Homo sapiens: one gene and its partner. The protein of the gene in region 1 purifies or fractionates together with the protein of each later gene. This does not show direct contact. Each region holds a gene or a part of one and is shown in the gene's direction. Other genes may lie near its edges.

Region 1 (3,479 bases):
CTGAAACATTTAATATTGGCTTAGGATGTATCAGATGGGGCCAAATAAAGCTTCTTTACAATAGTAAAAGCACTTTATACTTCACTCTCTGAGTCTTCCCAATAAATAACCTTGGGAGGTGCAGGGGGTGGGGGGCCCAGGATGGGGAGGCCTGGGAGCTCCCAGGGTAGTGACAGAGTTGGGCTGAGTTCTCCAGACGCCAGGATGCGTCGCAGCGGGGCCAGCTCAGGAGTGCTCACTCCCAGCCCTCTGGATCTCTCTCCTGGTTGGAATAATCATTACATATCGTAACTCTCAAAATTTATTCACTTATATTTTCAGAATAAGAAGTGTGAAATGTTAACAGCTCTCTGCTCTCTTACTTGTTCCCCATTTGGGGATCTTCTGGAGGGAAGGGGCAGGGGGAGAGTAACTTTTCTATATCCTTGGTTTCTAGGAACACATCGATTTGAAGACTCAGTAGCTGACTGGTTTTTTTTTTTCCCCCTTCAAACTGAAGTGCGAGTGTGCGTGTGTTCCACAAAATAGCAAGTATTTATAGTGTTGTAATTACATTTCCTTGAGAAATATTTTCTTGTATTTAAAAATCTTTCTACTTCAGTAACTCCCAGCAGAACAGTGCCCAGGACAGCATGTGCCGGTTAGTACCAGCTTTGCAGGTGAGCTGACTTCTAAACTTAGGACGACGTCTTCATCAATCAAACTAGTGCACAGTCCAGAAAAAGGGGTCCTTTATCTTCTAAGTTCTGCTCCTCACCTTTCTTTGGAACCAAAATTGCAGTGGAGTGTGAGGAAGAGCTTTGAAAGACGTGGAGTGTTGAGATGTCTGCATTGCACATTCAGCCGGTTCAAAGCCAGCAGCTCCTGCCTGCATTCTGTAGACATCGCCCTCACACACAGTCCTCTGATGGCTCTCATATAAAGCACTCAAACCGTAGGAAAGCATGTTTTTGAGCAACGTGTCTGGGATACTCCTCTGTGTGGTTATTTTGAATCTCTATTTCTGTCATTGAAGCAGCAAAAAACATCATGTGACTCATCAACTGATCTAATCACACTTAAAACAGGATGTAGAGAAAAATCTGATGAGAAACGTAAAAGGGCCTGTTGCCTGCCCTTTTAAAGGCAAAATGTCTAAAATCATGCAAATGTTCAAAATGAGAGAAATTGCATTGTGGAATCAAAATAACCCAAACTCCACTCAGAAAAGTCACAAATATATAGTATACTATCTGATCTCAAAAGGGAAAAACGAGATGATAAGACCTTAAGTTTAGACTTTATTTTCTTCTCAAGAGTGGACATTAAATCTATTAACTTGCAACTTTCTGCTGGGAAGAGCATCAAAGGTGGGCCTCCTAAATCATTTTTGAAAAACCTCTGTCAAGTCCAAGTGGTTCCAGGAGAATTATAGCCAGTATCTTTTAAAATATTTCATTTTAGTGATAATGTTTTTCTCTGCTTCATTTGCAATCAACCAGGATCTCTAAAAGACTGCATAAGATATATGCACTTTTATAGGTGGCTGTCAGCTACACATAGATTCAGCAAATTTTTTTTATATAGTACCTGTTTTTAAGTTAGGCTACATAACTTAAAGTGCACTTTACTAACAAGACTTGACATTAGCGTCTACAATATGTATATGTAAACAAAAGCACACAAGAACTAGGCACCCTTTCTCTCTCCAAGAGTTTAAGTGGTTTCCTTAGGTTAAAGAAGGGGACAGACCAGCTAAAAATGGTTGTACCACTCACTGTACAACCTCATGGAAATTCTCACTATAAGATTTAGAGGCAATGTTCCCTAGCTATAAGCCAGGGCAAGAAATGGCGCCTCTGGAGTTGGGGAACATTAGGGGAACATTACAACCGGGTAGATGCTGGTTCCCTGAAGTGTGGGGCCATGAACATGCAGGGACCCACGGTTTGAATGAAACAGCTACTGAAAGCTAAGTTCAAACCACCCTTGCGTAACAAAGGAGTACAGGGTACACATCAACACCAATCACCCAGCACCCCACAGCGATGGTCATGTCACCGTGCAGCAGGTCCCTTACCCCAGGGCTGCCACATCCACAAGCCTTGCAGTGGCAAATACGCTGCTCCTTGGATTTAATGAGATATTTTGGTTGCTTAATGATGTACTGATCAGGGAACTGTCTAAAGCTAGTAGGGCCAAGGAGTTAATCAAAGGGCTTCGGGAAAGTGGACAAGAGCCACACACGTGATTCTGTTCCATGCCGACACTCATTCATTTAAGAAGTGTATTCAAGCTGGAGGCTTCCATATCACTCACGCTTCTTGGCCTCACCTTGCTCATCTGTCCAATGGGAGGCTTGAGCCATTATTGCTAAGGCCCCTTCCTGATCTAACATTCTGTTTATGATCTAGGATTTAGAACGTCGTATGAGATCCTACAATGGAAGAATAAAATCACCTCATTCTTCATTTCAGATCTGAACATTAGCAGTGATCTAGATTTTTTTTTTTTTAAACAAAATTAAGTGTGCTTAGAGTCATTCCTCTACATGGGCTGTGGCTGTCAGCCCATAGGTTTGTCAGTTTCACATCAAAACTGTGGGTATAAACTGTTGAAACCAATCACATTAAAATATTTAGCTGGGCACAGTGGTGTGCATCTGTAGTCCCAGCTACTTGGGAGGCTGAGGCAGGAGGATCGCTTAAGCACAGGAGTTGGAATCCAGCCTGAGCAACAGAGCAAAACCCCGTCTCTAAAATACAAATAAAATATTTGTGTAGTTTTTGATTAAAATTGACTACAGCGGTCAGTATAAAATACATGTCGCTTTTAAGGAAGTGCTCTTTATGTATCTAACAGATGGAAGTTTTTGCATTGGTAAGAGCATTTATATATGCTTTGTTTCAGGGTTTATGGATTTGTATTCATATATTGTCAAATAGGTTTCATACTCTAATTTTACTTTAAGTAAAGCTTAAACACTTGGCATACAACTGAGATTGCTTTTAGTTTCTTGATTTTTTTTTATTCTAACCATGCATCTGTTTACTCACCGCAAAGTTACTTGGTTTCCTAATCCTGATTACAGTTTCCCTTTTAATCAAATTTACCTGAGAGATTAACATTTTGCCCTTTCCCTTGGTTGCTAAAACTTCTAACCACTGGGAAATTTCTCTAAACTCCCTGTCTTACTTAAATATAACCTATTTCTTCAGATTTTATTCTGCATTAAAATTACTTTTACTTCCCAAAACTTCAGTAATGAAAATGCTTCTCTGAACCCTCTCCAACTTCTCTATACACCTTCTCAAATGGGAATGCCAAAATGAAGCAAGTGTTTGGTGAGCCTGAGAAGGACAGAGCCCGACAATCCTCCTGCCCACATCTAAGAGATTCTTACTCTTCTTAGTCTTTATGGGAAAAGCATTACTCTTTTATCACTTTTTTTTTTTTTTTTTTTTTTTTTTGAGACGGAGTCTCCCTCTATTGCCCAGGCT
Region 2 (9,304 bases), on another chromosome or scaffold:
TACTCCCTGGAGTATTAGTTGTAGGAACTGGTTGGGGTTCCCATAGTCCAGTCCATGGGCCTGTTTGGCAGGCAGCTTGGCCCTGAGCCCTGAGGTATGCTTGATGCTTTTTTAGGCCCAGATATAGTAGGCATGTGTTCTTTCATGTGATGTGGGTTTTAAGAAAATGTTCACTTGCGTCTACGGCCATACCACCCTGAACGCGCCCGATCTCGTCTGATCTCGGAAGCTAAGCAGGGTCGGGCCTGGTTAGTACTTGGATGGGAGAAAATGTTCACTTGCGTTTTTCCTTGTCTCCTTCTTGCCCTTTCTTCTTCCCTCCACCCAAAATACTATTTTTAGTTTTTGCATTAGGTACAAGTTGTTTTTATATAGCTCTTTTTGGCTCCCCTGTAATTGGGGTCCTGAGACTGCTGTCCTGTTTGGGCTACTGTGTTATGTTCCTGTAGTTAACATCCCCACTGTTTTCTTTGTTTGTTTTTTTGTTTGTTTGTTTGTTTTTTTGAGACGGAGTTTTGCTCTTCTTGCCCAGGCTGGAGTGCAATTGTGTGATCTCGGCTCACCGCAACCTCCGCCTCCTGGGTTCAAGCAATTCTCCTGCCTCAACCTCCCGAGTAGCTGGGATTACAGGCATGCACCACAATGCCCAGCTAATTTTGTATTTTTAGTAGAGACAGGGTTTCTCCATGTTGGTCAGGCTGGTCTGGAACTCCCGACCTCAGGTGATCGCCTGCCTTGGCCTCCCAAAGTGCTGGGATTACAGGCATGAGCCACTGCGTCTGGCCCCAACATCCCCACTGTTTTCATGTGTGAGGAAGTCAGGTTGGAGTGGTGGCTGAGAGCATGAGACAGGCTCGGGTTCAAATCCAGTCTTTACCTAATTAGTTACTTAATCTCTTTAAGCTTTAGTTTCCTCATCTGTAACAATAACATTATTATGGAACATTCACTCTATGCCACACATTCTACTACATATTTACCTCCTAGGGTTATCTGAAATAGTAAAGGAGATGGATGTACTTAGGAGGTCTAGTAACCTCTGACATATGTTAATTAGTCAGTAAGTGTTAGCTGTTGTCATCAGCAGTGTGCTCATTTATGAATGTGATACCTGAAGGAAGGCTTGATGTAATAGTGAGCTATTGACAGATCTCAGCAGTCTTGTTATGAAAGAGCAGTTTCGCTAAGCTCAAGAAGGAAAGATGTTTGGCTCACATGCATAAAATGAGGTTAATTAGTAGCAGAAGGCCAATATGACATTCATAAAGCCTGTAGGGCAGCTTATCTCCTAAGTATATATATATTTTTTTTCTTAGGCCATTTTAAAGTTTGAAGGTCAAACACTGGAGGGAATATCAGAGCAAAATGATTTTTTATGATTTATTTTGTTTGTGTAACTTAGTCTTTATATGCCCTTGGGTAAACTAACCCATGATATGAATTATTTACCTTTAGTTGCAGTAGAGTGTATTGTATAGTATATGCACAGTATAGTGTATACTATAGTATAGTATATGTTATAGAATAGTGTATGTTTTAGTATATTTCCTGAAAACGTTTGGGTATGGTATAGTTGCATCACTTTCCTATTTGTGTTTTCCTCTCTACCATTTTGGAAATCCTATTATATTTAAGCAGCATCTTCAGTCTTCCTAAGAGGAAAAGCAATAGCTGTGGAAAGCGCATTTATAATGATTTGTTATGAAATCAGTGCCCTCTCCCTTATTCTTTGAAAACCTTTCATTCATTAAAAATTTGGGTGGTGGCTGAAAGTAGCAAGGAAGCGAGTGAGTGCTAAGTGCCCTAAGCTTGGAAGCTGGATTTGACGCCTGGCTCCTCAGCCTGAGTAGGACTTAAGGCAAGTTGGTGGACTTCTTTTAAGGCAAGTTGGTGGACTTCTTTTAAGGCAAGTTGGTGGACGTCTTTTACTTCACGCTCTCTTATTGTCTTTCTGTAAATAGATAGAAAAAATATTATTAAAGACTTCTCTAATCAAAACTTGCAGTCTGTAATCCTTAAGCGGAGGTTTGTTTTTGCAGTATCTGAAAAAAAAATTAGTATAAAAGTATTTATTCCTCTCAAAAGGCTGGCCAAGAACTGGCCCCTAGTCTTCTGTGATGTAAAGAAAGCATAGGAATATGATAACTCAGAGCGCTTGTGTGCTTGTCTTTATATTTCGGTGATGTCATGGCTGGGTCAGAATGCTTGGACATCAAATTGCATGTTCTTTCTCTGAGGACTTTTTAGATATTGCTCCGCTATCTTTTAATAGTGTATGTTACTATGGAGAAATCTTTGCCTGATTTTTGTTCCTGTCATTAGTGACTTGATTCTTTTTCCTTTGGCCTGGCTGCTTATAGGATTCCTTCTTTGTCCTTGAAGTCCTGTGCCTTTACTAGGATATATTTCAGTATTGATTCTTCTGAATCAGTTTTTCTTGGGACTCTGTGTACTCATTATTCTGCAGTTTTAGGTCTTTATTGTAGGAAGTTTTTTTTGGCAACTCTTTAAAATACTGCTTTTGGTTCTTTTCTGTTTTCTGTTATCCTCTTTTCTGTTATCCTCTTTTCTGTTATCCTCTTCGGTCATGCATATATTGGCTCACCTTTGTTGTCAGTATCTATCACGTTGTTTCTAGTCTTTTTAAAGCCTTGATTTTTTTTCCACGGGATCATATGTAGCCCGTACAGACTTTGAAGCCAGACTGGTTTTGAATTGTTACCTATCACTTGCTGTTTATCTGTGGGCCAATGTATTAGTCTGTTTTCACACTGCTGATAAAGACATACTTGAGACGAGGCAATTTATAAAAGAAAGAGGTTTAATGGTCTTACAGTTCTGTGTGCCTAGGGAGGCCTCACAATCATGGTGGAAGGTAAAAGGCACATCTTACATGGTGGCGGCAAGAGAGAATGAGAACCAAGCGAAACAGGGTTCCCCTTGTAAAACCATCAGATCTCGTGAGACTTATTCACTACCATGAGAACAGTACGGAAGAAACTGCCCCCATGATTCAGTTATCTCCCACTGGGTCCCTCCCACAACACATGGGAATTATGGAAGTACAATTCAAGTTGAGATTTGGGTGGGGACACAGAGCCAAACCACATCCGCTAATTACTTAAACTTCCAAGCCTCAGCTTCCTCATCTTGAAAGTGAAGACAGTAATGTGTCTACCTCACATAGTTGTTATGAAGATTTACTGAGATAAGAATTTTTTTTTGAGACAAAGTCTTGTTCTGTCGCCCAGGCTGGAGTGCAGTGGCATGGTCTCGACTCACTCTAACCTCCGCCTCCCAGGTTCAAGCAATTTTAATGCCTCAGCCTCCTGAGTAGCTGGGGTTACAGGCGCCTGCCACCACACGTGGCAAATTTTTGTATTTTCAGTAGAGACGGGGTCTCGCCACGTTGGCCGGGCTGGTCTTGAAGTCCTGACCTCAAGTGATCTGCTCGCCTTGGCCTCCCAAAGTGCTGGGATTACAGGCGTGAGCCAGCACCCCTGGTCTGAGATAAGACATTAAAAGGGCTTGGAAGAGTGTAGGATAAGTGTTCAGAACTGCCAGCTGTAGTTATTTCCATTACATTTTGCTTGATTTTCACTAGTCTATTCTTTTTATGTCTCTGACTCTGTTTTCAGCAATATCTGTTCCTTTAGCTGATTCCAATAAGGATTTCTTTTCTAAAACTGGTTTGTTATTTTTTCCATTGTTTTCCTGAGTGCTTATTTCAGAGAAGACGATTTTCCTAAATTTCTCAGACTCCATGGGGAAGTATATGTTCATTATTTCTTCCATCTTGTGGTGTGATTTGTCCAGCATTTGTTTTTCAGCTAATTGTTTGTTATGTTTCGTTGTTACTTCTTTCTTGAATATTTGTAGAGCTTTGTGGTATCTTGTGGAATGAGTACTAAACATGGCTCCTTTCTGATTATTACTTATATTTAAATGGGGCGGTTGTTTGACAGCCTGGCTATTGCCAAAGGGGTGATCTAGGGCCGTTGGAAGCAAGAATGTAATCCAGGCCTGTTAAGTCAGCTGGCTCCCCACCAGCACTCTTCCTGTGTGGATGTCTCTATCCTGGCTAGGAGGAGGCTTTGCACAGGACTGTAGGCTGCTGGTTTGGCATTTCCTTCATTGACTTTGTTTTGCCAGTTATCAATTTATTGCATCTGAACTCCAAATTCACCTTTGTTGACTGATTTGTGAAAGTGGGTCTGAGCCCTTTTAAATATCAAGTTTGTCCTGCCTTGGATATTGTCTCTCAGTCCTAGGGGACCTTTTAGAGTTCTCTTCTCATCTTTATGTTTACTCTCCTGTCATTGCTTAGTAATTTTTTTTATGTTAAACTTGTCCTCTTTGAACTATTGTTTGGCTTCTGTATCCTGACTGGGCCCAGTCAGAGTGATTATGCCCAGTTACTTTTCTAACCTGCCGTCCTGACAGTGTGCTTTTTGTGAAGATGTCAGCTTGTACTTTTCCTCATTCGGTCCTACTTGGATTTGATTCTGTGGTGTTGAATGGGGCTCATTGGTGCTTCTGTGACCCCAGACTTTGTCTTTCCAAGCAAGCAATTACTGGTTTGGCTATATTTGTGGAACAAGGGAGGTAGTATAACTTGTTGGTTAGAACAACAAATGGACTCTGCAGTCAGATGCCTGGGTTTGAATCCTGGCTTTTCTTTTGGCTAGTTGTGTGATCTTAGTCATTTTACCTCTTTAATTTTATTTTTCTTGTTGATAAAATGGGGGATAATAATAATAATAATAATATCTACCATATAAGATTGATGTGAGGATTAAATGAATTAACACATGCAAAATGCTTGGATCAGTGCCTGGGACAGTAGGCACTCAATACACTTCCAGTTGTCATCATCGTCATCATCTTATTGTTGTCATGATTATTAATTCTGTGAACTCTGCTCATTGCTGAAGATCTGCAATATATGTGCAATATATATCTGCAAGATGTATTTGCCTACTCTTACTGAGCTTTCTCAATTGAGTACAAGTTTCAGTGCATTTAGTTCATAAATTGTGGTTTGGGAATGTGGCTGTTTCCTATTTTGTGTTCTATTTTTATTTTTCTGTATTTGTTTTCCTGGTTTTAGGGAAGACAGTGTGACAGAAATGCCCACTTTTGCCATCATTAACTAGAAGCATGTAATCTTGCTAAACAGACCAATCTGACAGCAGCTTTTTTCTCAAAGAATGCTTCAAATTGTTTTTATAAATTTCTTACAGATTTTATAAATTCCTGTAGCATATGCTTCTCTTCCTCCCTGCCTGTGATAGTACATAGCATGATAAAAATGAATTTCCTTTAAACTGTTTTGCTGGGAAGTGTTTTATTAATGATTTCACTTTGACAAAGGTGCTGTTTTTAGCCTGATATGTTTGTTGCAAGGTGGAGACTGACTAGCAAGATTGAATTTGATGTCGATGCTAAATTTTTCACTTGGTGCTAAAAATCCAATTGCACAATTATAGGGTGGCTTAAGCATGTGTTCAAAATGCTTGGAAGTTTTAATTGAATCAGTAGGTGATGTGAATGCCAAGAAAGCTCTCAAGATCTTACGTTATAGAAATTGAATTGTTGTTTGCTATCTGGAGTAGGTAGGAAATAGCTCTGCCCTCCCTTTCTCTGGTCAGACTGTACCTGGGATTGTATCTAGTTCCAAGAACCATATTTTAAAAAGCACAGACATATCACATTGTGTCCAGAGGAGAATGACCAGGATGTTGAGGACACCTGAAACAATGCTTCTTTAAGTAATGGGTTGAAAGAGGTGGAGGTGTTTAAGTTGGAGCTGAGAAGAGTGGGGGAGGGCACTGGGAGATACAATACTAGCACCAGTGATGGTAATGATAATAATAGAAGCTAAAATTTATTGTGTGGCTATAAGCCAGGCACTAAGAAGCAGACATATATTATCTTATTTGATTCTCATCACAATCATATGAGCTAAAAAGAATAATTATTCCATTTCATAAATAGGGAAATTGATGCTCAATAAAGTTAAGAAATTTGAGATTACATAGTTCATAAGAGATATAGCCAGGATTTGGCTTGATGTTTGATTGTGAAGACTTGAGCTCTTAAATACCATATCATATGTCTCTTATGATTGATACCTTTGAGTGTTTGAAGGACTTACATGTGAGAGAGGGATCCCAGAAATTAAAACTAGGACAGATAATTGGCAACTTCCCAGAAAAAAATTCTTGAATCAGTGTAAAGAATTGGTTTCTAGATTGGAGGCCAGTGGATTCCCTAATACAGGTTACATTCAGGTGTTTGCTAAGTAACTGGTTGATAGGTCTTTGTAAGTAGCTAGTTGTAAGTTTGGGATAGGGGTGGGGATAGATTATGTGATCTTTAAGGTCTCTTGCTGTGCTTTCTCAAGTAACTCTAGAGTTGAGAACTCTGTGTGCTTTCCTGTTTTTCAGATATATATATATATATTTAAACATTTTAAATTGTCAAAAAATACATACACCATAAAATTTACCATCTTAACTATGTTAAGTATACAGTTCAGTATTAACTGTATATGCACCCAATCTCTAGTACTTTTTCATCTTGCAAAACTGAAACTCTATACTTACTCAGTAACAACTTTTCCTTCTACCTCCAGACCTAGGCAACAACCATTCTACTTTCTGTTTCTGTGAGTGTGACTACTCTAGATAACTCACATAAGTGGAATTACACAGTATTGCCTTTTTGTGTGTGGCTCATTTCATTTAGCGTAATGTCCTCAAGGTTCATCCATTTTGTAGCAAGTGTCAGAAGTTCCTTCCTTTTTAGAGCTGAATAATATTCCATGGTACGTACATATCACATTTTGTTTATCATGTCAGGTGTATTTTAGCTAAAAAACAAAACAAGAACAAACAATCACTTTAAAAAGCATTAGAGTTAATATTATTCTAACAACCCATGGCTCTGTATGCAAATTATTATGTGTAGAGTTATCTGGGATGGTTAGGGAATGGTGTGCCCTAATTAACCAAATAATTTGGTTCATGGAGTAGAAATACAAATTGTAGGAGATTATCTGGAACCTGTACTGACCCCATGGCATATTCTGAAAGTACTATTTTGAATTAAGTTTCTAATAATTGATTTATTTTCTTGTAATTTGTGCCCTTAAAAATCAAGTCTAATATTTATTGGGCAAAATGTATAGTTTTGAAAATAAAAATAAATAGAAATAATTTCTAGTTATTAGGATGACAGATTATTCAGTATTTTCTTTGGATTTTTTTTGAAAGTACTTAATGTTATAATTCTGTGGAATGTTCATTTTAAAAAATCTAAAATTTATTGATTTTTTTAATGTACCAAATACTAACTTTAAACATCAAAGGTTTTACTTCCAACATCTGGTATTGGGGGAACCAGCCCCCAATATTTCAACGTAGGTTCTTTCTATTTTCCTTAAGTGTTGGCCGGTCTGAGAAATAAAGAGAAAGAGTACAAAGAGAGGAATTTTATAGCTGGGCCTCTGGGGGTAACATCACATATCGGTAGGTCCGTGATGTCCCCTGAGCCACAAAACCAGCAAGTTTTTATTAGGGATTTTAAAAGGGGAGGGGGTGTAGGAACAGGGAGTAGGTCACAAAGATCACGTGCTTCAAAGGGCAATAAAGATCACAAGGCAAAGGCAAAGTTAGAATTACTGATGAGGGTCTGTGTCCTGCTGTGCACGTATTGTCTTGATAAACATCTTAACAGAAAACAGGGTTGGAGAGCAGAGAACCGGTCTGACCAAAATTTACCAGGCTGGAATTTCCCAATCCTAGTAAGCCTGAGGGTACCTGCAGGAGACCAGGGCATATTTCAGTCCTTATCTCAACCACATAAGACAGACACTCCCAGAGCGACCATTTGTAGACCTCCCCCCAGGAATGCATTCCTTCCCCAGGGTATTCCTTGCTGGGAAAATAATTCAGTGATATCTTCCCTACTTGCACATCCGTTTATAGGCTCTCTGCAAGAAGAAAAATATGGCTCTATTCTACCCGACCCCGCAGGCAGTCAGACCTTATGGTTATCTTCCCTTGTTCCCTGAAAATCGCTGTTATTCTGTTCTTTTTCAAGGTGCACTGATTTCATATTGTTCAAACACACGTTTTACAATCAATTTGTACAATAGTGGTCCTGAGGTGACGTACATTCTCAGCTTATGAAGATAACAGGATTAAGAGATTAAAGTAAAGACAGGCATAAGAAATTATAAGAGTATTAATAGGGAAGTGATAAATGTCCATGAAATCTTACAATTTGTGGTTAGAGATTGCAGTAAAGACAGGCATAAGAAATTATAAAAGTATTAATTTTGGGAACTGATAAGTGTCCATGAAATCTTCACAATTTATGTTCTTCTGCCGTGGTTCCAGCTGGTCCCTCCATTTGGGGTCCTTGCCTTCCCGCAACAATCTGGTCTCCATATAGTGTTTTATTCTTTCATTTTATTAATTGAACAAACTGAGATATAATGTATGAAATGACATCACCAAGGCCATAGTGACCCAGAGGTAGACACTAGCATTAATAATTATTCTTTTCCCCTTTTTAATTAGCTGGGTTTTGTGGTCTTTTTTATATTTCTTCTGAACAAAAGATTTAATGATAGAGTTTACATTAGTGATAGATTACTGCATAAAGTCTCCCCAAAAGAAACATTTTCTTGGTTGTTACTTGGTGGTAACATGAAATAAAGGCATAAAATCATTCAGTCATTGGCAGTGAGGCCAAGGGGTGGGTGGCTTGGGAGGAGGTGTACCTAGGCTCTTCTGTAATTTCTCTCTCAGCTATCCCAAATCAACACTGCAAGCTAAGTAAAAACAAAGTGCTTGCCATGCAAAGCACCTTCAAGACAAGTCCCCTACCTCTGTGTACTGGCTAGATCACCACCCCTCCCAGAATACTTGCTCAGAAGAGCAGTTTTTGGGGTAAACACTGTTTACTAAAAGATAGACTGAAAGGGCATTCAAATCACAGGATGGTTCTTAGAAGTGAGATTTCAATACATCTTCAGATGAACATTCAGTGTTCAACTTTCTAAGTTGTTTCCATAGAAACAGTTGGGAAGCCACAGATATTGGGCTGTGAGAAGCAGCGTATGGAGAAGAATTGTTCTAAAAGTTTACCAGGAAAGATTAGGATGTCACAGATCTAAGAAGATCTGAGGCAATATGCACATTAGGCACATGGAGAGTTGATGTGGAGCCATGATCTTTTTCTTGAGTGAGATTCAAACACATTAAGAGAGCTTTCTTTTTAAACTAAAGGCATT

Evidence for each region.
Region 2: the proteins of ANKH (region 1) and FAM234B purify together in Homo sapiens (affinity purification with mass spectrometry; 2 studies listed by BioGRID and IntAct, with this or other methods). This does not show direct contact.

Annotation. Positions count from the first base shown.
Region 1 is NC_000005.10:14,704,300-14,707,778, reverse strand, and holds the end of ANKH (mineralization regulator ANKH), read left to right. Parts: 3' UTR 1-2,979; downstream 2,980-3,479. UniProt on the Homo sapiens protein: Transports adenosine triphosphate (ATP) and possibly other nucleoside triphosphates (NTPs) from cytosol to the extracellular space. Mainly regulates their levels locally in peripheral tissues while playing a minor systemic role.
Region 2 is NC_000012.12:13,045,974-13,055,277, forward strand, and holds part of FAM234B (protein FAM234B), read left to right. Parts: intron 1-9,304.